Linked DNA regions of Homo sapiens: regions 2, 3, 4, 5, 6 and 7 are each linked to region 1. Evidence: fine-mapped expression QTL. A gene starts in region 1. Each other region holds a variant in brackets. All regions are shown on one strand. Distances are from middle to middle.

Region 1 (4,069 bases):
ACAACAGGAACCAGACTTCTGAGTAGCTGCAAACTGCAGTTCTCTGTGATGGGAGAACATGCCCCAGAACAGCCTGTCAAGTGGTAATTGCCAGCCATCCTCAGTCACATATGTATAAACAGAAAAGAAAAACAAAACGAGGGCTCAAATAAAAAGCGTTAACATTCATTAAACGCCTGACACTCTATTAAATGTTTTTCATGCATTACCTTCTTTAATCCTCACAACACCCTTCCAAAGTTGAACATGAAACAACCACACTGGTTTATATCACTTTAAATGTAAGACTACACGTCTCAAATGGGCCCTGAGCACTGCCTGGGAATCCAACTCTATTTCTCTAGTACGCTCACTTTCACCCTCTCTAGGACTCTGTCACATATCTCTCCTCCAAGTTCCCACACCTTTCCTCTCCCCCGCTGCCCTCCCTCTAAGCTGATGGATGCCTATACCAATAGACTCTTTTCCCACCACCCACTGTATCTGCACCTGTTATCTCAGCTTCCCCTCTAGTTACAACAGAGTAAGTGTCCCTGCTCATTTCAAAACCAACTACTCACCTGCTTAGGGTCTTCTCCTTTCTCAGGTATTCAACAACTACCCTTTACAATGTTCCCCTCTTTCATCTGCAGCAGTTTTTCCTTTCTACGAGTTTAATCACATTGCCATATAAACATTCTGCTTTCTTCTATCTTGAAAAAAACTCTACCCAACCTTAAGGCCCCTCTTCCCCATTAAAGTTGTTCTTGTCAAAATGATTAAAATCCTCCTAATTACCAAAGTCATCTTATACGGTAACATTCAACATGGTTGACCACTACCTCCCTCCCTTTTTTGGCTTCGCCTCCTCTTCTTTGTGTACACTATTAAACTAGATGTCTTCACCAGTCCCATATATTTTAAATACTATGTACAGTATATGATGCCGATTCCAAAGGTTAACTCTAGCCCGACATCCTCCAGAACTTCAGATTTAAATTTCTAAAAAGCACATTTGATATCTCAACCCAAATATCTACTAGATAATTTATGTGTGTATATTTCACCATACTAAAAAAAACTACCAGGTGACTGATAAATGGAGAGAAGGTGAATAGGTAATGTGAAAAATCAAATGTGCTAAATATTCATGGCACCTGTAGGTGGTAGGTGGTCAGAGTCCTCTGCAAAATTCTTCCCAGCTATGCTTATGTCTTCTATTGGGAAAAACCTACTGGGCATCTCAAACCTAACACATTCAAAACATAAGTACTGATTCCACAACTTCCAAAAATGAAACCTACCCCATCCTACAGTTTTCCTTGAGTCAAGGCTAGCATATGAGGGCCTTGGCATATGGGGGCATTGCCTATCGCGTTCATAGATATTCTGAGCTTCTAGAACAGCATCTGGCACACAGGAGGCGTTCAAAATAGCTGCTGAATGGATTGATGAATTCATGTTCTTTCTTTCTAGGTCCCTCGACCTCCACCCGCCCTTGAGTCATTGGGAAGTTCTGGGCTGTCTCAGCGCCTGATGATGGCTTCTTACCAATCATACCACACGGCTGCTCCTCAGGGAGTTGGTGGCATTCCCCTACCACAGAGCCACAGGGTTCCTGTCCCGGTCCCGTCTCGCATAGGCGCCCCAACACGCGTCACAGTGCAGCTGGCATCACACGGCCAGAATCACGTCCTGCCCTCTGGCTGCAGCGACACTACTTCACAGCTCAGGCCCACCCGGGCAGTCTCCCGGGCCAGGGCCACAACCCACGCCTTGTGACCCCTGCACGTCAACGGCATCTTCCTTCTTCACGCCCGCCCTCCCACAGCCCGGCGCAGCGGCCTCCCGCACGCCCCCTGCCCACCTGGCCCCCAGCCACCTTTCCTCACCTGGGCCTGCGGGGCCGCCCCAACTGTCCCGCTGCAACCCCAGCAGCCTCGCCAGTTGGGTCCACGCCTAGCCTGCCGGCCTTCGTCGCTATCCAATCCCACCTGCGCCCGCGAGCCTGCGCACTGGAGCTTTGCCCTGCGCCGCGGCACTCTGCCCTGCGCCGCGGCCCTCTGCTTGCCAGGCCGGGAGAGACAGAACCTGCCTCTACCGGTCTTCCAAGGCACTGAGAGCCCATCGCCGCGGACGCCGCTGTAAATTCCCTGCGGGCCCTGTGCACCACCCTGTGCGGGTCCCCCTCTCCCAGGCCAGGCTGATAATGTCAACAGCTCTCTGAGCTATGCTCATATCCTGAACCACTGAGGACTGTGTTCTCCAGGAATGCTCGCCTGACCCACGCCTGCCCTCTAAGCCCCTAATGAGGCCCCAGAGGGCTGGGGTGGGGGGGTCTCTTTGTAGTATCAGAGCAGGGCAGATAGGCAAAAGGAGTCAGAGCCTGTGCCAGAATATGAGGTCAGTTGGCTGCTAGGTCAATTAAGACAACTTCAGCAAGGGTGGTCAATGTAGAGGGAATTCAATCGTTGGCATTGCCTGAAAACAGGAAGCCAGAATCTTTTTATCTTGACGAACAAACCTCTATTCATTGGTCCTGACCTGAGCCACTTTGGTGAATCCAGATACCCTGAAGGTGTGACAAGACCTGCCTCACTTATCCCCCAGCCTTCAGTGCTGGTCCCACAGAGAGCCATATGCTTGAGCTGAACTGCAGTTAAGCAGTGACAGCTACCCTCTGTCCAGGCTCTGAGGCCAGCCTTCTGCTCCGTGAGTCACTGACAGTGAGTCTCTACAGAGACTTTTTCTTTCTGTAGCAGCCAAGGTACCCTGCAAGCAACCCACGCCATTGCCATATGTCTTAGTTTGTTTGTGTTGCTATAAAGCAATACCTGAGGCTGGGTAATTTATAAAGAAAAGAGGTTTGTTAGTTTCACAGTTTCACAGGCTGTAAAAGAAACATGGCACCACCACCCGCTTTTGATGAGGGCCTCAGGAAGCTTCCACTCATGGCAGAAGACAAAGGAGAGCCAATGTGTGCAAGACAGAGGAAGAGAGAGAGGTGGGAGGTGCCAGGCTCTTTTCCATGACCAGTTCTCATGAAAACAAAGACTAAGAACTCACTCAGTTCCATGAGACTAGCACCAAGTCATTCATAAAGGATCTACCCACATGACCCAGACACTTCCCACCAGGCCCCACCTCCAACATTGGGGATCAAATTTCAACACTAGATTTTATTTATTTATTTATTTATTTTGAGATGGAGTCTCGCTCTGTCGCCCAGGCTGGAGTGCAGTGGCGTGATCTCAGCTCACTGTAATCTCCACCTCCCCAGTTCAAGTGATTCTCCTGCCTCAGCCTCCCCAGTAGCTGGGACTACAGGAGCATGCCACCATGCCTGGCTAATTTTTGTATTTTTAGTAGAGACGAGGTTTCACTGTGTTGGCCAGGCTGGTCTTGAACACCTGACCTCAGGTGATCCGCCCGCCTCAGCCTCCCAAAGTGCTGGGATTACAGGCATGAGCCAACGCACCCAGCCCAACATTAGATTTAGATGGGACAAATATCCAAACTATATCACCAGGGTAAGATTCCCCTTTAAAGATGGACCCCATGTCTAATGTTTCTTCATAGTGCCTAACATCAAGATTCTGCACTGGTCATCATTTCACAAACATGAGCAGCATGGCTGCTCCAAGACACACAGAGGGAATAACCCCCATTCACATCACCAGGAAATCCTTGCATGGAGGCTAAATGAACAGTTGGTAAGAGTGGACCCTGAGGTGTCATTCCATCTCCCCCAGACTTCCTGCTTGACCACACAATATTCCCAGAAGCCAGTGACCCAGAAGGCTCTTCTTGGCTTTCTGTCCTTTTACCTGTGAAAAATTCGAAGAACTATAAAGTTTAGGGCCCATCACAGTTTACTACCCTTCTTTGGAGGCCTCTTTAAACCCTTGAGTCTTACCAATTACCAGTAGCACTAGGAGCTTTGCAAGCCTGGCCTTAAGTCCCTGCTTTGCTACTGAATAGTTGGTGACCTTTGGCAGGTTACTTCCCAACTTGTGTCTCAGTTTTCCTTTTTTTAAAAAAGGAGACACAGTTGCAAGTGTTTAATGAGACAAAAAACAGAAGCATTCAT
Region 2 (4,069 bases), 400 kb before region 1:
CCCAACTGTGTCAAGCTCTCCAGGCAACTCTGATAGGCATTTTGCACAGTGGTTTTGACAAAAGAGGGAACTCATAAGAGCCTTCCAAGAGAAAACATATGAATACATTGCCTAGCATGGTATTTGGCACATAGTAAATGCTACATAATTGGATAAATAAACATATTTCTTCTCCATCTGACCCACCTATCCCTGACCCATACAAACAAGCCTGCTGGGAGATGCTAGAGGAGCATGGCTTGGGGTTGGGCTGAGCGTGAGTGAGCGGACTGGAGGCAGGATAGATAGAGGATTCATGGACATTATTATCTCAGGGAGCAGAGAGAAGGGGAATGGAAATCCCAGAAACACCTGTGAAGGATCTTATGTTTCCAGGTTTTGATAAAGGGAAATAGTTTTGAACTCTAATGTTGGTGTTTTGGTGCACAAGTCACAGCCAGAGCTGGCCAGCTGGCCAGCCCTCCTGGTTTCTCACTGACACTACCTTCAAGCCCTCCCTGGCATGCGCTGCTGCAGACGCTCTTTGTGATGTCCTTATTCCACCAGCCAAGCCCGGCTCTTTCGTCCTGCTTGGTCTCAAAGTCAGCCTCTTTGTGGAGTCGTCTCCATTCCTCCTCCTCCAGAGTCTCCTCCTCTCATCCTCCCCTTCCCACCTCAGACATGCATAAGTTCCTCAGTCACAGCTTTGTCTCCATCCTGGCCACAGAAGAAACATGAGTTATAAGCTTCTGCTCTGATGACATTTTATGAAGTCATAGAGAGGCACCTATTGGGACACCCCAGGCAAAACACCTGGTAGTACCAGGACTCAAGTCTCCCCATTTCTCAAGTATAAAGGTTGTATTGGAAGCCTTCTGAAGTTTTCTCCCAGCCCTCAAGTTTTTAGCTCTCAATGGTACTATTTATGTTTGTCACATGAACTAATCTATAAGAGGCCCTGCCCTTCTAGAGGATGTGTAAATTCAGAGATGCGGCCCAGCTGCAGGCCACCACCCTGCTCCCTCCAGAATGAAACAGGCCCAGTTGAGTGACATCAGCAAACCGTGTCCAGACCGTATGATGGAATCTTTTGGGCTCTTATGACAATGTAATGTTGACATTTTTTGTTTTAAGGGAAAAACAAGTTATTTCATAAACATATTTCTTTTTAACCTCACTTTACTGTGTCCCAACCTCAGTGTTGTTGGGACAATCCTAGCAGACTGGGGATCACTGGCCAGGAAGTTCAGGGTCAGTGCCAGTCATGTAGGCCTTAAATCAGGCGGCCTTGAGCATCAAACTTAATGTTCCCTGTGGTCTTGGCAAGACATCAATGGACATGTTACTTACCCTTCCTGAGCTTGTTTTTCTGCAGCTCCAATTGGGCAGTAAGTTGCAAGGCTGCTGTGAGGCTAAGCAAGATCCTGTAACTGCGTGGTCTTCTATACATTGGAGGGGTCACTAATGATACCAGCTTCTCCTACTGTAGAGTTGGGACATGTCATGTCCCCAGTTGGGACCTGCCCCATTTCACATTCCAAGGTCTTCAGGGCATGCCCAGGAAAGATGGCAACAACTGAGCACCTTCCATCCAGGCACAGGCCTGGAGGCCATGCCCACAGCTGGACCCAGGGAGAGTGTCCCAGCCTGCCCTCCCCAA[T/C]CCCAGTAAGCCAGACATGAGGACTCAGAGGCATTCCAGGTATTTGGGGGGAATCCAGAAGGCCTCCCAGAAACTGCAAGTGCTAGAAAGAATAAGATAAAACTACTATTGGACAGCCCATGTTTAGCAAAAATAGAAAGGGGGCAGTTGAATGAGAAGAAAATGAGGGATGGAATATTCAGAAGAAAGGGACTTGGAGTTTTATTAAGCCCCAATATTTTTACTTATTTTGCTATTAACTTATATCCTGTCATGTTCCAAAGAGAATTAGACATGGCAAACCAAGCACTAAAGTGCAGGCCAGTTTGCGCCAGCCCAGCAACCTATAGCAGCTTGAAGGGAACAATTTGGTCCCATGTCCAGTTCCTGTGGGAGTAAGGGAATAAGGTGGTGAGTGTGGAGGACCATCCCACCACTCCCCTGACCTCTGTCAGCAGGCAGGGCCATGTGCCCAGCAGGTAGGGGTCCCCACGGCAGCTGCTCACGCATGTGTCCCAGGGTCACTTGGAGCACCTCATAGGAGATGCTGAGCAGAAGCTGCGGAGCTTCACCCTGGCACCCTCGCATCCCCCTCACCTACCAGTTCTGGCTAATCATTCTCCAGTTTCAATGGCTTCGCCTCCAGGAGTTGCCACTCTTCGGATGCTACCTAGGCTCCTGGAATCACTGTGGCTGCCTGGGCAGAAGGCCAGGGAACTGGGACTTTACATCGCCCTTCCCAGGGCAGCCAGAAGCCAAGAGGCCCTGAACACCCAGCTCCCTTGCTCGAGGCCACACTGCCCTGAGGAGTAACTAAGCTCCAAAGCTCCCCACAGGATTGCTCCCAGCCTGCTTTTCTGCTTCACCTCACCCTTGCCCATGTCTCCTGAGAGCACTTCCCCATATATCCCTTGCACAGGAATCCTGGTCTCCAGAGCCCAGCCTAAGGCCCAAGACAGACACCAGAGCTGCTTCTCTCCTTGGACATCCCCTCTTAGAAAACCACTATGGCTTTGCAGTTTCCTCTAAGACTTGGGGCCACGTCATCTGTAGGTCCCAGCTGATGGGACTGCTATATATACACCTGTCTCAAATTGGATCCAGATTCTCTTTCAGAAATGCTGGTTAAGCAGCTTCAGGCACTCCATCATAAGGCAATGTAAACGAAGGGCATAAGGGAACAATTTGGGGTGGCTTGGGTGATCCTTCTACACACAAGCAAAAGAGAAGCAGGTGCAGGAGACCACATGGCCCGTCCACTTCCTCATGAGTCCTTGGACCTCAGGAGAGACCCCTACTTATGTTGAATCTCTTGCTCCATGAATTACCAGAAGTAAAAGATCTCTGACCAGGCAACCATAGATGTTTTTTTAAACACCCCAGGCACCTCCCAATCAATCCATGTCCCTGAGGCTAGGGGATGAGGAGAAACCCCGAGAGGCCACTGTCCCTGTCTGGAGCCATGTCCATTCTCAACATCAGCCTAGCTTGGGTTTGCAGGAACCAGTAGTGGGACAGGCCCCTGGAAAGCATGGGAAAGCCTGGGTTTCTGGAGCCTGGGACAGACACCAGGGAGTATGGAGATGGCTTAGGGGACTCCAGCGACCCTAAAAGAGGCTGAGACCCCAGCAACCACCAGATGGTGTACTTACAGATGGGGAGCCAGTGAGATTTTGAAATGGGTGACATTCAGTTTTTCAAGATACCACTGTACCTTTAATTTATTAGCTTTCCATAAAAACACATAACATACACAATCTACAGTATAGAAAGTATAATTTACAAAAATATAAAATCTTGGTTATTTTTTAGTATTCCCACGTTACTATATGTGTTATTTCAATATGCATGTTTAAACAACCCACACTCAGCATGACTATCTCTGTGGGGAATGGTGTCAACGCCCTCCCTTTTTGTTGTTTTAAAATAAAATATATATATTAAGAAAAAGAAACCAATATTGGCTACATGTGCATACCATATGGATAAAAGCTCTGCAGTGGACTTTGAAAGGAAACACTCATTTACACCACGATTATCCTGTTTTCCAAAATCACTATGTGGCCCAAAGTGTTCTGAACTGAGCATTTAAACAGAGTTCTTTCCGTGTGCAGGGAGCGAGCGCCCTAAGATTTGCATAGTCTTCTTGCTCAGTTATGAGATGATGATCACATCAAGCCAATGTTGTGGATATGTTTTGTTTTCAAGCCTTCAGAACAGTGGGTATGAATGATGGGCCACTTTCAGGCCAGGGCTAATTCCCAGATTCCTTCAGGTACTCAGGCTGGCATTTAAGGGGCTAGTCACTAGCAATGAAAGACCCCCTAATGATGCACTGGCGGACAGCTCTCTCTGGGCCCCAGTGATGTTGCCCATGAGCTGTGCTCTGTGTCTGCAGCTGCACCACAAGTCCTGGTTGCAGAAGGCTCCGAGAAGGCAGCTCTGCTGGGC
Region 3 (4,069 bases), 130 kb before region 1:
TGAGATGGTGAAATCCAAACCTCAAGCTAAAGCAAGTGGGGAGAAAATGGTCACTGCTGTGAACAGACATATCAGCAGCAGCTGTGGTGCATGGCAGAGCCGTCCCCCCTGCAGCATCATTCCACGAGGCGTGGCTGGGTAGGCCTTGCGGGGCCAGCACATTCTCACCCTGCCCACCTACCAAGGCCTGTTTGTGTTAATGTCACAGCTCTGAAGCATTATCATCAGAGGCCATGAGATTTCAAAGGAGCTTCCTTTGCAGAGCCACATTGCTCTGTCCATAATTAGCACAAGTTTCCATGAGCATGACGATGAGGCCAGAGGGGCTGCCCTGCAGGCTGGTTTGTTAGTGTAAGACATTCCTGGGGCATCTGCGTAGCCTGGGCTATGCTTTTCCAGCCCTCGCTCCCCCTGGCCCCTGCCCTCAGCAGCCCCCAGGCCCTCATTAAGGGATTAGCGATATGGGCCATGCAATCCCTTGGCCATCTGCTTGAGAAGTGCTGGGTTCTTTGCTCTGTCCCGCCTGAACCTTATCAGTGGTCCTCGCGCAATGTTTGTGTTGCAAAAATCAAAGCAGGTCTTGGGCGGAAATTATAGACCACTGGTGTCATGAGCTAATTAAAGACTACGGGGTCATACACAAGGGAGAGGACACAGATTTCTCCCACTGTCTGTCCTTCTGCTAATGGGACATTGACAAGCACAGACCAGGAAGAAGGCTGAGAAAGCCAGCAGCCCGTGAGAGTATGATAAAAGGTGACAGTGACAGGTCTTGCTTCACCAAGTACAGATTGGGGGATGCTCCTATCAGGGCCCAGCACCCGTCACAAAGGGTGTGGCTGTGGGGCCTGGCGGCAGGCTAGGGGCACTCCCCCAGCAGCCATCCAGAGCCTGAGGGAGGGGATCTGTGGGGGGACAGTCTCATGTTAATGGCAACACATTTATGACCCAGGAGGAAGTTTAGGACAGTTCTGAATGTCTACATCTCCATCATCAAAACAGATTAAAATTCAAGAATAATCTTGAACAATGGAAAATAGACAGGCAGGGAAAAACCAAAATGTAACCTTGAATAGCTTCTGCTGTTGTTCTCTGTTTACCAGGAGGCTGTGAGCTTCTTGAAGGGTTTGGCTCCCCCACATGCGAGGTCGGGGACTGGGGTGATCTAAGTGAGTGATGGGAGCTCAAACCCTTGCACATGGGATGAGATAACATCCCTAGGTACCATTTGAATGCTCTCTCCCCCTCCACACTCACCCCAGTTCCCAGCCCCAGGCAGATGGACCAGACTCCACTGCTGAATCTAAAGTAAAGGCGGCAAATGTACGACCACTAGGGTCAATATCTGGTGACTTAGGTCCTGATGAGAGTGCTTGCCATGATTCCTGCACAGAGGGTGATCCTGTACTAGAGGACTGGCTCCAAAGCTTCCACCGGCCAGGGAAGGGGTCACAGGAGCACATCACCACCCAAGCAAGTGTGATCCCTGCCAGGACTAGCAGTGCTGCAGTAGCCTTGCCCACTCTCCTGCGGTCAGGACCCCTCAGTGATGGCACACGTCATCCAGTTTGGAAAGATCATCCAGCCTCAAGACTGGGCAGCACCTCCCACTCAATGCACCCATGTGGCCAGCCCACTCTAGGGGTCCGGGACACGCTTCGGTCTGGGTGCGGGGGTATTCGAGGGGGGACTGCCATGTCTGTCAGGGAGTGTGGGAAGCAGATGCTGTAAGGTGCAAACCAGTAATTTTCTGGGGACACCTTCTGAGCCCCTCCTCCTTCCTTCAGCCATTCTCCATGCCCCCTTTTGCTGAGCATAATCCTCAATTTCTTTATTACTCAATCCAGCCTTCTCTGGCAGAGGAGTATCTACTATTTTCCAGGGGAGGCTTCTCAAACCAAGGCCTGCAGGCGAAATCCAGCCTGCTATCTATTTTTATCAATGAAGTTTTATTGGAATGCAGCCAGGTTGATCTGTTTATGCACTGCCTATGGCTGCTTTCAGGCTATGATGGCAGAGTTGAGTGGTTGCATCAGAGACCCTACGGCCTGAAAGCCTAAAATATTTACTCTCTGACTCTTTATAGAGAAAATTTACTGTCTCCTATTCTAGGAGGTATAGAAAAACTATTTTAGTTTAGCCTCATAATGTCCCTGGGCAATAGACGTTGATTTTCATTTGAAGGAAAGCCACCAAGGCTTGGCAAAGTTAAATAGAACCCAGCTGTTAGGGAAGGGAGGTGGGCCTCAAAGCCACATGTACTAACTCTAAAGACTGTCTTTTTGGCATTTGTCTTGTTGCATCTTTGGCAGAATAAGCCGAGGGTGAAATGTTGCCTTGATCCTGTTGCTGGAGCAGGGCTAGAGCTTTTACACCTCCCAAACCTGCAGGATGTCTAGTAACAGCCCCCAACTTTTCTCCATGGAAGTCCCGGTTAAAATCCAAAGACAAATGACCCTCTCCATATTATCCTCC[A/G]AGATCCAAAATTACTCATTCAAACAGCTCTTTCCTCTTCTCCTTAGGTTTGTGACATAAAAGTGTATCCACCAGTGAGCCTCTTCCTCCTCCCTTTGATCCAGGCATTGTGTGTGCATTTGGAGCCTGAGCCAGGTGGGTAAGGTGACCCTGGATGCCGCACGAGGTCCTTTTTGGGACTGGCAGGTGCCTCTTCACTGGGCAGTGGAGACGCAGGATGAGGGAGTTGATTTGTGGCTATAGAGAAGCTGTCAGAGACAGAACCTCTGGTTACTCAGTGATGGCCCTCCGGGAGTCAGGAACCCAACAGACCTCATCTTTAGTCTGTAGGATCCCCCAGAAAGCAGACGCGCTGGGCATTAGAGTGCCTCTTGTTCTCTCTATTGGCTGTCAAGCCTCTGAACGCCCTTAGTGCTTGAAGAACTGGCCCCAGCATGGATGAGTCCTGCAGGATTCAGGACCTAGCTGCTGCTACAGACACGGAGCAGGGCAGTCCAGACTCAGCCATCTTTCTGCTGCTGCACCCACCTACTTGTTACCTGAACTCTGCCACCCAGCAGTAAGCTCTGCCAGGCCTCACAGTGGGGTGGTGGGGTGTGGCCCACACCTCGCCACCACCCACCCCCACCTCCAGGTTGACCTCGGTGGTCAAGCTTGCCTTGATACCTTCCTGTTCTCCAAGCCTGTGCTCCAGGATTCTCTGTCAACCACCCCATCTGTTCAATAAATTCATTTTCTACTAAAGTCAGCCCACACCTGTGCAGAAACAGGGTTGGAGCAATTTAGGTGCCTTGTCCAAAGTGATAACAGATGGGAAAAGGCAGAGCTGGGATTCAAGCGCATCTCCTCTGACCCTAACAAGCACAGGCTGCTCTCGCTAGCCACACCCCTCTCAAGGAGCAGCACTGCTCTTTCTAGACCCTCAGAAATGGGCCACCTCCCAGATGCCAGGTGTGAGTGTCCTGACACCTGCCCCTCACTCTCCTCCCCAGCCAGGGCTTCTCTGATGAATTTTCCCAAGTCAGCCTCTTGAACTACCTGCCTTCCTGGGAAACACCTTCAAATCTGCAGAGGACCAAGTGGGCTCCAGAAATGAAAGTGGAGCATTTCACTGTGTGTGGAGCAGTGAGAAAGGGAGAGGGTAGGCTTGGAGAGTGCAGTTAGCCTGCATTGGGCATCCTGACCCGTCGGGCCCCAGGATGGGAGGGCACAGGAGCCTCCAGTCACAGGAGGTCCTTGGGGGGACAATGCCCAAGGCCTAGTTGAGGAAGGGGGCAGAGAGCCGGCTCCCAGCACACCTGCCAGGCCCCACACCTGGGACCTTGGGGTCCCAGAGATTTCTTTTCAATGCCTAAAGCTTTGCTCTCCGAGCCTAAGGACAAGTGGGCAGGACAGGGCAGGATGGCATAGACTTGACCTCCTTCCCCTTGTCCCAAGTTGCACTCTCCAGACATGGGCTGGCTGCACACATGGGCTGGACACTCAGGGGGAAGGTCAGACTTCCCAATCTGGGACCCTGATTTTGCTGTTCATGGCCAGGTGTCTGTCCCTTGGCTGTCAGCTGTGTTCACCAGGTGTGTGTCCCCTCAGAAGG
Region 4 (4,069 bases), 220 kb after region 1:
GTGAGGTAAGTGTTATCTCTGATTTGCATATGAAGAAACATATTCCGAGATTAAAAAATTGCCCAGTTTCACACAAGGAATAAATTGGAGCACAGGAGTTCTATATAGATAGACCTGTATGACTTCACAGAGTGAAATGGACAGATAAACAATTCACTTTCCAGGAGAAATCACAGGACAATGGATATCAGAAGAAATGATGGGACCAGGGTAATATTGGATGTTTTGTATATAAAAAACTAATGTGGGCAACAAAAAAGCATATAAAGTCACTGAAGCAAAATATATATTGTGAAATCTAAAAGAAAATATGCTATTGGTAGGCCATGGCTACATTATAAAAAACATTTCATTTCACATAAAGTATGAATACTACACTATGACTATGAGTTAATATTAAAAAATTGACCACATAGGAAATAGGAGAAAAAAGTAACAACACTGTGGAAAGCAAAGAAAATGACTGCAAGATGAAGCTATCACCACCATCTCGTGGCCACATACGGACCTCCTCAGAAGCTTAGATGAATAAAGGGAAGAGACTGGAGTTATTAAAATTTGTAAACTCAGAGTAAAAGCCTTCCTGAGCTGAGGCTAGACCTCTGAGGGAGAGAAATGTTCCAACTGCTGCTGTTACCTCTGAAGAGGCACTTTCTGGGGCTCTGAAAAAATTGGTAAACTGAAACAATTACTGCTCCTAGGGCAAGGGGATGTTCTTGGGAGAATATCAGCAAGGACAGCAAACAAACAGGAAAAGGAGATCTATTCTTCCATTCTCTTGCCTATGTTTCTCTAGTACCTCCCAATAGCAGTACGTAGCAGGATCCCACTTGAAGGAACTTGGAAAACGTAGCTTGCTGATCCCCATCACGGCATCATAGCAAATTTATTTCAGAGAAATGTGGCTAAAGATCAAGATTATTAGTAAATCAATTTTTTTACCTAATTTTTAATCTGTATTGATTTCTTATAACATAAATATCTGTGGTTACAGAGACCTCAGTATTTTCTTTTTCTTCTGTAGCAGCATTTCAATCTTTTTTGAAGTTCTACCTCTCTTTCACTGCTAGTTCACACCATGTGAGAGCAATGGACCTAATCATCATGGGCAGTGGTCATAATATGTCTCAACCTGCCCAAAATAAAGATGCTACCCCATTAACCATATGTTTTATTTTGTAATACGATCATGATCCAACCTAGTCTAATGAGAAACTTAACTAGAAATTTTGTTGGAATTATTGAGGAAAACAGTGTTCATTTTCTGAAAAAGTAGCTTAGCTAGTAAGATATAAGCTCAGTGCTACTAGTGGCCATCTTGATGTGGAACAATACTGAGAATATTTCTTCAGGTAATCCTACAAGAAATGTGTGCAAAACAGAAAAGAGGAAGTTACAATGAGAAATTTCTTACGTACTATATTCAGTAGAGCCTCAGGGTAGCTCTAAATCTAGATACTTAATAAGAATACTACTGATAATAAATAATACTCATATAGCAAATACTATGTGCTAAGCATTCTTTCATGTACTTTATAAGATTAATATATCTAATACAAGGACTGTATGAGATAGATATTATTGTCCAGTTTTATTATGTCCTGCAAATAAAATGCCCTGACAAATTATATTCTCTCAATCATCTTTCCTTTGTTTGCAATCAACATTTTATATGTATTCACTTATTATGTATCACTCCTTTGATTCCTCAAAATTTATTTAGGGCTATATAAATATTTTGCTACTACTGGAATTAGCAAAACTTTAAGGTTAAATTTTCAAACATGTTATTGCCCTCATCATACTGTAGCAAGAATTAGTAATCAATGATACATAAACCCTATTTATTTATCCAAATTATTCCATTTCACATCCTCACAAAGGACACTATTCTGTCACCATTTAACCCTGTTCCCCAAAATCTCCTCATAAATGCAGTTTCAAAAACAGCAAATAGATAAATTGGACTTTATTAAAATTAAATTTTTTTTTTTGGTGAAATGGAGTCTTGCTCTGTTGCCCAGGCTGGAGTCAGTGGTGCCATCTTGGTTCACTGCAACCTCTGCCTCCTGGGTTCAAGCAATTCTCCTGTCTCAGTCTCCCAAGTAGCTGGGACTACAGGCACGCACCACCACGCCCGGCTAATTTTTGTATTATTAGAAGAGATGGGGTTTCACCATATTGGCCAGGCTGGTCTCGAACTCCTGACCTTGTGATCTGCCCACCGTGGCCTCCCAACGTGCTGGGATTACAGGCATCAGCCACTGCGCCTGGCCCTTAAAATTAAAAAATTTTTTTTAAAGTTTTTATTTTTTTGAGACAGGGTCTCATCATGTTGCCCAGGCTGGAGTACAGTGGCGCCATCATGGCTCACTGCAGTTTCAACCTCTCTAGACTCAAG[C/T]GGTCCTCCCACCTCAGCCTTCTGAGTAGCTGGGACTGTAGGCATGTGCCACCACATCCCAGTAAGTTTTGTATTTTTTGTATTATAGAAATGGGGGCCAGGCACAGTGCTCACTCCTGTAATACCAACACTTTGGGAGGCCAAAGTAGATGGATCACTTGAGGTCAGGAGTTCGAGACCAGTCTGGCCAACATGGTGAAATCCCCTCTCTACTACAAATACAAAAATTAGCTGGGCATGGTGGCACGCGCCTGTAATCCCAACTACTTGAGAGGCTGAGGCACGAGAATCTCTTGAGTCTGGGAGGTGGAGGTTGTAGTGAGCTGAGACCATGCCACTGCACCCCAGCCTGGTTGACAGGGCAAGTCTGTCTCAAAAAAAAAAAAAAGAAAGAAGTGGGGTTTCACCATGTTGCCTAGACTGGTCTTGAATTCCTGGGCTCAAGCAACCTGCCTGCCTTGGCCTCCCAAAGTGCTGGGATTACAGGTGTGAGCCACTGCACCTGGCCAAAATTAAAAACTTCTATGTTTCAAAGGACATCATTAAGAAAGTGAAAAGACAACCTACAGAATGGGATTAAATATTTGCAAATTGTGTATCTGTTAAGGGTCTAGTATTTAGAATATGTGAAGAACTATCACAGCTCCATAAGAAAAAAACAAATAATCCAATTGAAACAATGGGCAGGCCAGGTGTGGTGGCTCACGCCTGTAATCCCAGCACTTTGGGAGGCCAAGGTGGGCGGATCACGAGGTCAGGAGATCGAGACCATCCTGGCTAACATGGTGAAACCCCGTCTCTACTAAAAATAGAAAAAAATTAGCTGGGTGTAGTGGCGGGTGCCTGTAGTCCCAGCTACTCGGGAGGCTGAGGCAGGAGAATGGTTTAAACCCAGGAGGCTGCAGTTGCAGTGAGTGGAGATCGCACCACTGCACTCCAGCCTGGGCGACAGAGCGAGACTCCGTCTCAAAAAAAAAAAAAAGGGCAAAGAATTTGAAGAGATATTTCTCCAAAGAAAATGTGCAAATGGCCAAATAAACACATGAAATACACACATGAAAAGGTGTTGAAATCATTATTCATTAGGGAAATGCAAATAAAAATCACAGTGAGGCCAGGTGTGGTGGCTCATTGCCTATAATCCCAGCACTTTGAGAGACTGAGTCAGGAAGATCACTTGAGCCCAGAAGTTAGAGACCAGCCTGGGCAACATAGGGAGATAGGCGTGGTTTGAGCCTGTAGTTCCAGCTAGTCGAGAAGCTGAGGTGGGAGGATCTGCTTGAGCCTGTGCCGTCGAGGCTGCAGTGAGCAGTGATGGCGCCACTGCACTCCAGCCTGGGCGGCAGAGCAAGACCCTGTCTCTAAAATAATAATGATAATAATAATAATAATAGAGATACCAATTCACACCCACTAGAATGACTATAATAACTTAAAAAAAATCTCAAAAAAAAAAAACCCAAAAAACAAAACCCCAACAACTGTTGGTGAGGATGTGGAGAAATGGGAACCCTTATAGGGTTCCTTACTTATAGGGATGTAAAATGATACAGATGCTATGGGAAACAGTCTGGCAGTTCCTCAAAAAGTTAAACATACAGTTGCCATATGACACAGCAGTTCCATTCCTAGGTCATCCCAAGAGAAATGACAACATATGTCCATACA
Region 5 (4,069 bases), 86 kb before region 1:
AAATTTTTAATTAACCCTTTGAAAAAACTTTTAGTTTTTTAGAGACAGGGTCTTGCTCTGTTGTCTCAGCTGCTGGAGTACAGCGGTGTCATCATATTTCACTGCAATCTCAAACTACAATCCTCCCTCCTCAACCTCCTGAGTAGCAAGAACTATAGGTGCGTTCCACCATGCCCAGCTAACTTTTTTATTTTTATTTTTGTTACCCAGGCTGGTTTCAAACTCCTGGCCTAAAGTGATCCTCAGCCTTGGCCTCCTAAGGTCTGGGATTATAGGCGTCAGCCACCATATCTGCCATAAAAAAATTTTATTTTATAATACAGATATACAGGAAGTTGTACAGGGTGGCCCTGTGTATCTTTCACCCAGTTTCCCAGATGGTGTCATCTTGTTTAACAAGATATAATATCAAAACCAGGAAACTGACATTGGGACAATCCACAAAGCTTAATTCAGATTTCACCAGTTTTACATGCAACTGTTAGTGAGTGTGTGAGAGTGTGTATGTGTGCATGTGTGCATGCACAGAGCTCCATGCAATTATATCATATGTGAAGATTCATGTAACTATAACCACAGTCCAGATACAGAGCTGTTCCACCACAAGACTTCCTCCTGCTATCCCTATAGAGTCACACTCATCCACCCCAATCTCTAACCCTTGGAAAATAGTAATCTGTTCTCCTTCTCTATGCTTTTGCTATTTCAAGAAGAAATAGCAAAATTCACTATATGAATAAAATTGCACAATAGCTAACCTTTTGTGATTGACTTTTTTCCCACCCAGAATAACTTGGAGATCCATCCAAGTTGTTGGTGTAACAATAGTTTGCTTCCTTTTATTGCTAAATAATATTCCATGATGTGGATATGTGCCACTTTATTTAACCATCAATTTGTTGAAGGACATCTGGGTTGTTCTGGTTTTTGGCTACTGTGAATATAATCTGCTATGAACATTTACATACAGGTTTCTGTATGAACATAAATTTTGATTAATCTGGGATAAATGCCCCAAGAGTGCTATTGCTGGGTTATATGTCAACTTTAGTTAGTTTTGTTTTTGTTTTCTTTCCAAGAAACTGCTCAATTGTTTTCCGTAGTGGCTGGTACCAGTCTACATTCCCAATGTCTCATACATATGGGTAATGTATGAGCAATACAGTTTCTCCAAATCTTCACATAATTCTCCAAATCCTCACCAGCATTTCCAAATCTTCATCAGCATGGGGTGCTGTCACTATTTTTACATAAGCCTTTCTGATAGGTGTGTAATGCTACTCCATCCTGGTTTTAATTAGCATTTCCCCAAGGGCTAATGAAGCTGAGCATCTTTTCACGTGCTTGTCATCTGTATGTTCTCTTTGGTGAACTGTCTGTTCATGTCTTTTACCCATTTCTGTTTTTCTTTTTTTTTTAACTATTGATTTTTGAGGGTTCCTTATAAATTCTAGATCCAAGGCCTTTGTTGGATATGTGCCCTGCATATAGTTACTCTCTAGCTTGTTTTTTTTTTTTTATCCTCTTCATTGGGTCTTTCACAAAACATAAAATTTTAGTTTGCTTTCCCTCTGAGATCAGTGATGGCAACAACGCCTGCTCTCACCACTCTTATTCAATATAGCACTTGACATTTTAGTACAGCAATAAGACCAGAAAATAAGTAGGATGTATACAGATTGTATACAGATCAAAAAGGAAGAGACAAATCTATATGCACATGGCATGACTGTCTATGTAGAACACACTAAAGAATCTAAAAAAAAAAAAACCTACAAAACCTCTAAGAGCTAATAAGTAATTTCAACAAGATCACAGGGTACAAGATCAACAAATGAAAATCAATTAAATTTCTACGTACTAGCAATGAATATGTGGAAACTGAAAGTACAAACACAATACCATTTACAATTGCTCCAAAGAAAATGAATAGGGTAAATTTAACAAAACATATACAAGATCTATACACTGAAAATGACAAAATGCTGATGCAAGAATTCAAAAAAGACCTAAATAAATACACTTACCATGTTCATGGATTGGAAGATTCAATACAGTAAAGATATCAGCTCTCTCCAATTAAACTACAGATTTAAAGTAATTTCCATCCAAATCCCAGCAAGTTTTGTGTAGATGTAGCCAAACTAATTCTAAAATTTATTAGAGAAAGCACAGACCCTAGGATAGCTCAAACAATTTTGAAAAAGGAGAATAACGTGGGAGGAATCATTCTATCTGATGTTAAAGCTTACTATATCACTACAATAATCCAAAGGGTGGTACCGGCAGAAGGATAGACACACTAATCAATAGAACAGAATACGGAACCAGAAATAGGCCCATACAAATATGCCCAATAATTTTTGACAAAGGTACAACAATAATTCAATAGAGGAATAACAGAATTTTCAATAAATGATATT[G/C]AAACAACTAGCCATCAATAGGCCAAAAAATGAATCTTCACCTAAATTTAATAATTTATTAACTCAAAATGGACTATGGACTTAAATGTCAAATATGAACTTACAGAATTTTCATAAAAGAACACAAAAAAATTATTCAGGCCCTCAGCTAAGTGATGAGCTGTTAGACTTGATATCAAAACATGATCCATAAAAGGAAAAACTAATAAAATACAATCTCATCAGAATTAAAAACTGTAACTTCTTTAAAAGCATTTTTTTAATTATAATTTAAGATTAGGCAAATTATGGAAATACATTTGAATTACTAATTTTTAATCAGTTTACTGACTATAAAACAAGCATGACTGGACTGTTCAGTTAAGAAAAGACACAGCTTTCCAAATGTGGCTGTAGTGGTTAACCAAATAATGAAGATGGAAGTGACTGCAATGAAATGAAGACAAAGAGTTATATAATTTTCACTTGGAGTTATGATTCCTCATATATTGAGTTTTATAGTCATTATTGATTGTGAAGCTCTAAAACTACACTTGTGTTATTTCCAAAGATGTACTGGTTAACAAAGCAAAGGAACCATTAAGACTTATTTGTAATTTACATAAAAAATAATTAATTCAAAGATAAAATAATTATCTTAAAGAGAATTAGATTAAAAAGACAAGAGAGGACTTCTGGTTCCAAAATAACAGTGTAGAAGCAAGCTGGCTTCACTTCTTTACAAAGAAAACCAAAACCAAATATACAGCACTGAAATTATCACCAACAATATCCCAGAAATCAAATACGAGGAGAAGACAGTTCCTGGATCCACAGAGATGGGAAAAAAACTCTAAGTAGGCAGTAAGAGAATTGGGTTTCCACATCTGCAATGCCCATTTCTCCAATTTGCCCAGCACCAAGAGTGCAAAAAATCTCCACCTGATTCATGATTTCTATACCAGAAAAGGTGACATCCAGGTTTCCCACCATCTGGGTTACCTGGCAGGAAACCTGTCCCTACCTCAACCCACAGGAAGCACTACATGTGCCTGAAGAAAGAAATACCCTGAGAAGAGTCAGAAACAAACAGGTGAGGTGGGACTACCATCCCCAGCCCTGGAAACTCTGGTCTGTAACTCAGCTAAAGGAGATGCCAAACCAGAGTGGTTGTTTAGTAGCACCACATTGCAGAAGATACATTGCACAGGACCCCTGGGCATGAATCTCTAGCCACCTTTCCCACACTGCCATGATATCTCCTTTGAGACTTTCCCTAATTGGAATGAGCAGCTCTCTTATTGTTTACTGGAGCCAAGGCAAACTTGGTCGTAAGGTGACATCTAGTGCCAAAAAGAAGGCAGCAACTTAGCCCCTCACCAAAAAAAAAAAAAAAAAAAAGAAAAAAAAAATTCGACAGGTAAATTACATAGAATCTATAACCAAATACATTCAATAAAAAACAAAAATAAGCCAGACAGAGAACACTGGAATAAATAACTAATCCTTCATTCAAAGACATCAATACAAGATATATATTTCTTGCACATCCAGAAGAAACTGCAGTCAACACAAAACCATGACCTCCCCAAATGGATAAAGCAAGGAACCAGTGACTGACCCTCATGAGATAGCCATATAAGAGCTCCCTGATCAAAAATTCAAAC
Region 6 (4,069 bases), 100 kb before region 1:
TGTGGGTTCCCAGTTTCCAGCATGCTGGAGCTGTCTCCAAGCCCAAGTTGTGCATGGAACAGGCATGCAGCTAATATTCAGAATCAGGATGAGCTCACTCTGCTACCAACTTGCATAATATTTATTTATTCACTCATTTAACAAAGTTTCTGGGGACTAGAAAATACCTTAGGTACTGATAATACAAAATGAATATGGCAAAGATTGAAATACGTTTGAACCAAGGTTAATATCAGAGGTAGGTATTGAAAGTTTCAACCCAACAATCAGCTTGTAAAACAGCGGTCTGTTTTCTTTCCCTTTTTTTTTTTTTTTTTTTCAAGAGGGGTTGAATTATTTTTGTGAGGGTGCTGGTAAGAGGAAGCTCTACATGAATTATTGGAGAATAACAGTTCTGAAAGGAGATGTGGCTGTTCTAAGCCCAGCCTGGTGCTGGTCTCCCCAGTGTCTTTCTCTCGAGAAAGAAACAAATGAAAGTTGATCTCAGCAACCAGGACCCATCTGGGTACCCACACCTTTCCTTCCCAGCAGCCCTGCAGGGTTGAGGCTTGTTCTCACAGCCTGGAACACAAGAATAGCATGTGTTCCAGATGGAGCAGAATGATTCTGGCCTAGGAAAGACATTATACCGAATGGGTTTCAGATTCTTATTGGTATCTGGGAAAGGACAGACAGCCACTTCTACTTAAAGAAATGCCCACAATCCCACTTCCCATCATGGGCAGAACATGCACATGAACTGCACCCCACAGAGGACCCTGTGTACAGGGTGGTGCAAGGCCAACATAAAATCAAGTCAGGCCAAAGAGGAAAAGTGTCTTTGCCCAACCGCGGTATTGTGAAGGGAGCCTTGCACAGCTGAGTCACTATTTTGATTCAAAGACTGTCTATTTCTTTTTGTCCTCCCTTTGTCCCTTTGTTTCCTTGGTTGAAATTGTGCTCGGTGAGTGAACTGTCCCTGGCCTGCTACTAGGGTCAGCAGGGCCTGAGTCTCATGTCACCTTTGATCATCATTGGCAGCTTCTCCAGCTCCCTGAGACAGTCAGGGCAGGGGGCTTTAAAATCTTTGAGCAACTGTATACATAGAGGGCTGAATCCTAGACACAGCTGACATATACTATGACTTATTTCATTTTTAACCAGTAAGTCTTGGGTCTATCTGTTATTAGCAGAAGCTTCTAAGCAAAACAAGAATTCCAAAATTCAGGAGGATTAGCTTGACAGATTTCCCAAACACCTTGGACAGCAACATGAGTTAAAATGTGACCCCCATCATCACTATGCATTCATCATGACTAGCTTGCCTCTCTCAAAAAATGGCCTGGGAGAGAATGGGCCAGAGGTGCTGTTCTATCTGTCAAATGTGATCTATGTAATCATCCTAGTTGGCACTGCAGAATGAAAACTCAAATGTGTCTCTTCTCATTCCATGAAAAAGGAAAGCTCCTGAGGGTTCTCTGTGACAATACTTATGCTACTTATTCTTGGTCCTGTGGTGGCACTCAGTTTCTCTAAAAGCGAAAGGACATTATGGTGGCCTACTTCACCCAAATGCTAGGAGATCACACAGTGAAAGTCAGGTATTTGCATTCATTCACTCCTTAGAAACTATGTACTGCTGGAAACTGAGGAGCAGAGACATCCCCTGCCCCTACAGGACAGTGTTGGTGAGGATGGATTTAAAGACAACAGAGCAGAATCCGAGTTGCCCCCTGCCCTGATTCAACACCAGCTGTCAACATCAGCTGGCAGAGAGGAGGAAAAGTGGCTTCCAAAGACGAAAAGAACAATCAAGGAAGCCATTCGAAGATAGTAGAAAAGAAAGCAACAGTCAGCTCAAGAATACGCAGTAGATGAAAACTACAGCTTCCACACAGGAAGAGCTAAAGGAGAGAGGCCCTCAAAAAAAGGTTACAAGAAGAGTTTAAAAGTGAGTTGACCATTTTAATGATATTGATTCTTCCAATCATGAGCATGGAATGTTCTTCCATTTGTTTGCATCATCTGTGATTTCTTTCAGCGTGTAATTAATTCTCCATGTAGAGATCTTTCACCTCCTTGGTTAGATGTATTGCTAGATATTTTTGTGGCTGTTGTCAATAGGATTGTATTCTTGATTTGACTCTCAGATTGAACATTATTGGTGTATAGAAATGCTACTGATTTTTGTACCTTGATTTTGTCTGTTGAAACTTTACAGAAGTTGTTTACCATTTCTAGAAGCCTTCTAGTGGGGTCTTTAGGGGTTTTTTGGTTTAGAATTATATTATCTCTTATTTCTTTTTCTTGCATGATTGCTCTGGCTAGGACTTCCAGGACTATGTTGAAGAGAAGTTAATGGGTATGGGCATGAACAGACACTTCCCAAAACAAGACATACATGCAACC[A/G]AAAAACATATGAGAAAATGCTCCACATCACTAATCACTAGAGAAATGCAGCCACAATGAGATACCATCTCACACCAATCAGAATGGCTATTATTAAAAAGTCAAAAAATAACATGCTGATGAGGCTGTGGAGAAAAGGGCATGCTCATACATTATTGGCGGGAGTGTAATTAGTTCAGCCACTGTGGAAAGCAGTTTGGATATTTCTCAAAGAACTTAATACAGAGCTACCATTTAACCCAGCAATCCCATTACTGGGTATATATCCAAAGAAAAATAAATTATTCTACCAAAAAGACACATGCACTTGTATGTGCATCTCAGCACAATTTACAATAGTGAAGACATGGAATCAACCTGGGTTCCCATCAGTGGTGGACTGGATAAAGAAAATGTGGTACATATACACCAGGGAATACTACACAGCCATATAAAGAGAACGAAATCATGTCCTTTGCAGCAACATGGATGCAGCTGGATGCCATTATCTTAAATGAATTAATGCAGGAACAAAATAAAACAAATACTGTATGCTCTCACTTACAAGTGGGAGCTAAATATTGGGTACTCATGGACATAAAGATGGAAACAATAAACACTGGGAACTCCTACAGTGGGGAGAGAGGGAGGGAGGCAAGAGTTCAAAAATTACCTATTGAGTACTATGCTGATTACCTGGGTGGTGGGATCAGTCATATGCCAAACCTCAGCATCACGTAATATACCCATGTAACAAACCTGCACATGTATCCCCTGAATCTAAAATAAAAGTTGAAATTTTTTAAAAAAGAGAGAAATGACTTAGCATGTCAATGAAAGACTTTATATTAATGACAAACTCTAGTGGAATATATGTCCATTTTCTTCACTTTTACGTAATAAAATTTAAAACTTTCAAAAATAAAAGATAAATGAGTCGACAACGGTGCTTGGGGAAAACAATTCTTGTTTGTTAATACTCTCCAACCCAGCTCTTTTGCCTTCCAGCTGGCTAGTCATTAAACAGTTAAATGAAACAATAAAGTGTGCTCACTCCCTCTGTGTATGAGAATTATGTTTCCAACACAATAGATTCCTCCATAACAACACTGAATGTTAAGAGAAAGTAAGTGAAACAATGTCTACAAGCCCTCCAAGTGAGAAAAAAATGACACATGAATTTTATACAGAGCCAAAATGTCACATACATATAAAGAACTTCAATTAATTGAAAGAATGCCAGAAATCAAGGACAGTAGAACTTGTGAGCCCATCTTGGAAAACCTTTTGGAGGATGAACTGTCATCAGCCAAGTTATGCATAATGAAATTTCTATATACTAGCTAAAGAGACAAAACAAATTTGTCATTACATTATGCTCTTTGGATATTTAATTCACTCCTCCTTATCCTAATATTCCTAATTTCATAACCAGAAGCTGAAGTGATGTCACTTTATCCATGTAAGTTCTTCTCCAGGCTCTTCAGGTGCTAATATGCTTAAATCTCTTCAAATATTTTATAGTGTTTGTTTTTGTCGACAATTGGAATATGACCATGTTCCTGCCTGTCCTACTTATTATACGGGTGTGTCAAAAGGGCAAGTGTGTCACAGGGCAAGTGGCATAGCACCAGGAGATACACACCTGCACGAATGTCCATGTATCTGGGTGTGGGCAACCAGAGTGCACATGAGAATGAGA
Region 7 (4,069 bases), 140 kb after region 1:
TCTTGTTTTTATAACCTACTTTTTTGATCCCTTATTTTCTCACCTTTAAAATGGCATTGCCTACCTTATGAGTTGTTCTAAGGATGAGAAGACATGAAAATGTACTATAAATAGAAAATAAGATGCTAGCTATAATCTCAAGCGATTTTTGTATCTTTTTTTATTTTTATTGTTTTCTTATTTTACAGGATAACAAACTGGAAAAGATCACAAGGAGGTTCACCATGGAGCTAGCAAAGAAGGGCTTTATTGGTATGTGTAGCCACATAGATTTTGGCATAAAGTGGGAACATCTAAAAAAATCTTTTTTTTTTTTTTTTTTTTTTTTTTTTTTGAGACAGAGTCTTACTCTGTCTCCCAGACTGGAGTGCAGTGGTGCAATCTCCTCCACCTCCCGGGTTCAAGCAATTCTCTTGTCTCAGCCTCCCAAGTAGCTGAGACTACAGGCATGTGCCACCACACCCAGCTAATTTTCGTATTTTTAGTAGAGATGGGGTTTCGCCATGTTGGTCAGGCTGGTCTTGAACTCCTGACCTCGGGTGATCCACCCATCTCAGACTCCCAAAGAGCTGGGATTACAGGCATGAACCACTATGCCCGGCCTCCTACTATTTGTGATAGGAGCTTTTGCCAAACATACAACATTTTTGAAGACACTAATCTTCGTTTGCTTGATGTCTTCGTATCTTACTATTATCTGTGTTTATATGTTCTTTGTGTGTGATCTGAACATTCTTTCCTATGATATGTAAATATTTGTCATTTACCTTCTAATTTTCAGGCAGTTTAAACCTTTCTATACATATATTTTTAATCTAGAAGGCTTCTAATTTGTTTGAATAGAATATACATAATTATTTAATAAAATGCTTGGCCTATCAGTATAGTTAATAGAATGTTAATAGTTACTTAATAATATAATACTTGCCCTATCAGTATCAGTATAGTTAAACAAAATAAGGTCTACTTAAATAGGAAATAAAGTGTATTTTTCTCTACTTTCTTTCTCAGCATTTCCCCCACCATGGACAAATGCCTATGAAATTAAACTATAAAGTCTGGGCATGGTGGCTGGTGCTTGTAATCCCAGCATTTTTGGAGGTTTTGGAGGCTGAGGTGGGAGGATCACTTGAGCCTGGAAGTTCAAGACCACCCTAGGCAATATAGCGAGACCCCGTCTCTACAAAAAATGAAAATGTTATCCAAGCGTGATGGTGCATGGCTGTGGTCCCAACTACTAAGATGGGAGGATCCCTTAAGCCTGGGAGGTTGAGGCTACCATGAGCTGTGATCGTGCCACTGCACTCTGGCCTAAGTGACAAAACAAGACCACATCTCAAGAAGAAAGAGAAAAGAAATAAAGCTATTCAGATTCATTTTTAGGAAAAAAGTCATGAAATAAATGTCATGAAATAACCTAATATAGAAATACAGTAAGTATAGGTAACTCTAAAACTTGACTAGATTTGGCCTGTCTTTCATAATAAAAGGCATTTGGGCCTTTGACGTGCCGCATACCCAGCACTACTGTGAATTTGTGCATCATTACACGGAGCCTGTTAACATGAGTTAACTATCTCACTCACACTTTTATAGGAGTACCTACCGATTCTGAGATATGGTGAATTGAAGTCATGTTCAGCCTGTTAATAGCCTTCATAATTTTCAAAAGGTCTTTCCTCCTCGCCTAAATCTCAAACACATTTTATAGTCTTGAATGGTTTCAGACTTTATTCAGTCATATTTATCGCCCATATCTGCAATATCTCCAGCTAAATTTTATCAGTCTTGACAAGTACCTAATAATTCCAAAGGTCAAAAAGTGATTCATTGGAATACTGAAAGAAAACACAGCTTAAACTCTAGTAACTTGATTTATTTGCCTAATTCGCAAAGGCCTCATTGACCCATGATGCAGCTAAATTGACGTCTTGGCCCAGACAGCTTTGAAGCCTAGGAGGCAGGCAAAGGGAGTTTTTTCTCTCACTTCTCGGCAAACCTTCAAATTCGATGTTATTTATCTGTTATTTCCTGACACTCCACAGAGAGTGTCAGATTGAGGCTCAGACCTGAGCCTGAGCCCTGATCCTATCACATGTGTGTTTAGCATCAGCTTGTAAATTTCTGCAAAACAAAACAAAACAAAAAAAAAGAGGCTGGGATTTTGATAGGAATTGCATTGAATCTGCACACCAATTTGTGGAGTATTGCCATCTTCCCCACCCTCCCCAAAAGGGTTTTGCCCTTTCACCCAGGCTGGAGTACCAGGCAGCAGTCACTGCAACCTTGACCTCCTGGGCTCAAGCAATCCTCTCACCTCACCCTCCCAAGTAGCTAGAACCATAGGCGTG[C/T]GCAACTGCACCTGGCTAACTTTTTAATTTTTTGTAGAGACATGGTCTCATCACGTATCCCAGACTGGTCTCAAACTCCTGGAATCAAGCAATCTTCCCACCTCAGCTTCCCAAAATTCTGGGATTATGGGCATGAGCCACTGCACCTGACCAGTATTGCCATCTCAACCATATTAAGCCTTCCAATGCTGAATATGAGATGTCTTTCCATTTATTTAGGTCTCTGATTTCTTTCAATGATGTTTTGTAGTTCTCATTGTAGAAGTCTTACAACTAAGTATTGTATTCCTTTTAATGCTATTCTAAGTGACACTGATCTATCGTTTTCTTATGATGTCTTTGTCTAGTCTTTGTATCCAGACAATTCTAGCCTCATGGAATGAGTTGAGGAGTGTTCCTTCCTCTTCTGTTTTTGGAAAAGCTTTTGAAAGGTCAGTGTTCATTCCCTTGTGTGAGTGTAAATATCACCTATGTAAAGTTCTGCAGGACCCTGATGTCTCCACCCTTCTCATCCCCTTATATCTCTGTGCACCAAAATTACCCTTTCATCTCCTACTCTATAGTCACATGCTGTTAGAAAAGTTGCTTTTTTAAAAAAGATGAACTTCTGCCTCAGACCGTGCTCTCTATATAAGAATTTACCTGTTAGGCCAGTCGCGGTAGCTCATGCCTATAATCCTAGCACTTTGGGAGGCCGAGGCAGGCAAATCACCTAAAGTCAGGAGTTCGAGACCAGCCTGGCCAACATGGTGAAACCCCGTCTCCACGAAAAATAGAAAAAAGTAGCCAGGCGTGGTGGCGGGCACCTGTAATCCCAGCTACTCAGGAGGCTAAGGGAGGAGAATTGCTTGAACCTGGAAGGCAGAGGTTGCAGTGAGCTGACGTCATGCCGTTGTACTCCAGCCTGGGCAACAAGAGTGAAACTCCGTCTCAAAAAAATAAAAATTAAAAAAAAAAGAAGAACGTATCTGTTATTCAGGAGCTACTTGTAATCTGTGCATCCCAATACATTAGTTTGTATGGAGCAGAAAACTAGTAAGCCTAATAATTGATACCTTGTGATTTTGTTTTGGGTGGGTGAAGCTGTTGCATGTTTAACATGTATAGACTGTTTTTGAGAAGGATTTTATCATTATATGTTTGTGATTTACAAACTGTGTGCTTCAGACTTGCCACTTGCCAGAGCCCTTCTCCAATTGGAATTGTTTTTTGTTTTTGAGACAGTCTCACTCTGTCGCCAGGCTGGTGCACCGTGGCGTGATCTCGGCTCACTGCAACATCTGCCTCTGAGGTTCAAGCAATTCTCCTGCCTCAGCCTCCCGAATAGCTGGCACTACAGGCGCGTGCCATCACGCCCAGCTAATTTTTGTATTTTTAGTCTACAACGGGGTTTCACCACGTTGGCCAGGATGGTCTCGATCTCTTGACCTCGTTATCCACCCACCTTGGCCTCCCAAAGTGCTGAGATTACAGGCGTGAGCCACCGTGCACAGCCAGCTTTTTTGTTTTTAAAATATATTGTTTAATCAAGATGGGATCTCACTATATTGCCCAGGCTTGTATCAAATTCCTGGGCTCGAGCCATCCTCCTGCCTCAGCCTCCCAAAGTGCTGGGATTACAGGTGTAAGCCACTGCCCCAGCCTAGTTGGAATTGTTGTTTGAGGTAACAAGCTTACTTAATCCTAAAGCAAGCATAATACTTTCGTAGATGCCTCTA

Which allele goes with the higher level. Positions count from the first base shown, and alleles are read on the strand shown. Sizes are in standard deviations (SD) of each study's normalised expression. Not every link is listed here.
As copies of C replace T in region 7, the expression in thyroid of the gene that starts at base 1,945 in region 1 goes down (large effect, 0.93 SD a copy in GTEx).

Evidence for each region. PIP is the estimated chance that this variant, and not a neighbour inherited with it, causes the effect.
Region 2: its variant is fine-mapped to the expression of PTPN20 in whole blood (TOPMed, PIP 0.92).
Region 3: its variant is fine-mapped to the expression of PTPN20 in whole blood (TOPMed, PIP above 0.99).
Region 4: its variant is fine-mapped to the expression of PTPN20 in skeletal muscle (GTEx, PIP above 0.99).
Region 5: its variant is fine-mapped to the expression of PTPN20 in whole blood (TOPMed, PIP above 0.99).
Region 6: its variant is fine-mapped to the expression of PTPN20 in blood mononuclear cells (TOPMed, PIP above 0.99).
Region 7: its variant is fine-mapped to the expression of PTPN20 in thyroid (GTEx, PIP above 0.99). The same link has a PIP of 0.9 or more in aorta, atrial appendage, cerebellar hemisphere, cerebellum, esophagus muscle and nucleus accumbens.

The regions. Positions count from the first base shown.
Region 1 is chr10:46,909,304-46,913,372 of GRCh38, reverse strand. It overlaps PTPN20 (protein tyrosine phosphatase non-receptor type 20), which reads right to left and starts at 1,945. Exons shown (of 11, transcript NM_001042357.5): 1 at 1,872-1,945.
Region 2 is chr10:47,312,820-47,316,888 of GRCh38, reverse strand. GDF10 (growth differentiation factor 10) reads right to left here. Exons shown (of 3, transcript NM_004962.5): 3 at 3,312-4,069. Among named protein-coding and RNA genes, the nearest start is that of GDF2, 7.6 kb to the left of the region's middle. The variant T/C (reference allele first, on the strand shown) is at 1,640.
Region 3 is chr10:47,035,737-47,039,805 of GRCh38, reverse strand. No RefSeq gene overlaps it. Among named protein-coding and RNA genes, the nearest start is that of PTPN20, 130 kb to the right of the region's middle. The variant A/G (reference allele first, on the strand shown) is at 2,476.
Region 4 is chr10:46,688,899-46,692,967 of GRCh38, reverse strand. No RefSeq gene overlaps it. Among named protein-coding and RNA genes, the nearest start is that of FAM245B, 50 kb to the left of the region's middle. The variant C/T (reference allele first, on the strand shown) is at 2,402.
Region 5 is chr10:46,995,068-46,999,136 of GRCh38, reverse strand. The region is part of intron 9 of PTPN20 (protein tyrosine phosphatase non-receptor type 20); the gene reads right to left. Among named protein-coding and RNA genes, the nearest start is that of PTPN20, 86 kb to the right of the region's middle. The variant G/C (reference allele first, on the strand shown) is at 2,424.
Region 6 is chr10:47,009,572-47,013,640 of GRCh38, reverse strand. No RefSeq gene overlaps it. Among named protein-coding and RNA genes, the nearest start is that of PTPN20, 100 kb to the right of the region's middle. The variant A/G (reference allele first, on the strand shown) is at 2,389.
Region 7 is chr10:46,766,922-46,770,990 of GRCh38, reverse strand. It overlaps the pseudogene GLUD1P2. Among named protein-coding and RNA genes, the nearest start is that of FAM245B, 28 kb to the right of the region's middle. The variant C/T (reference allele first, on the strand shown) is at 2,352.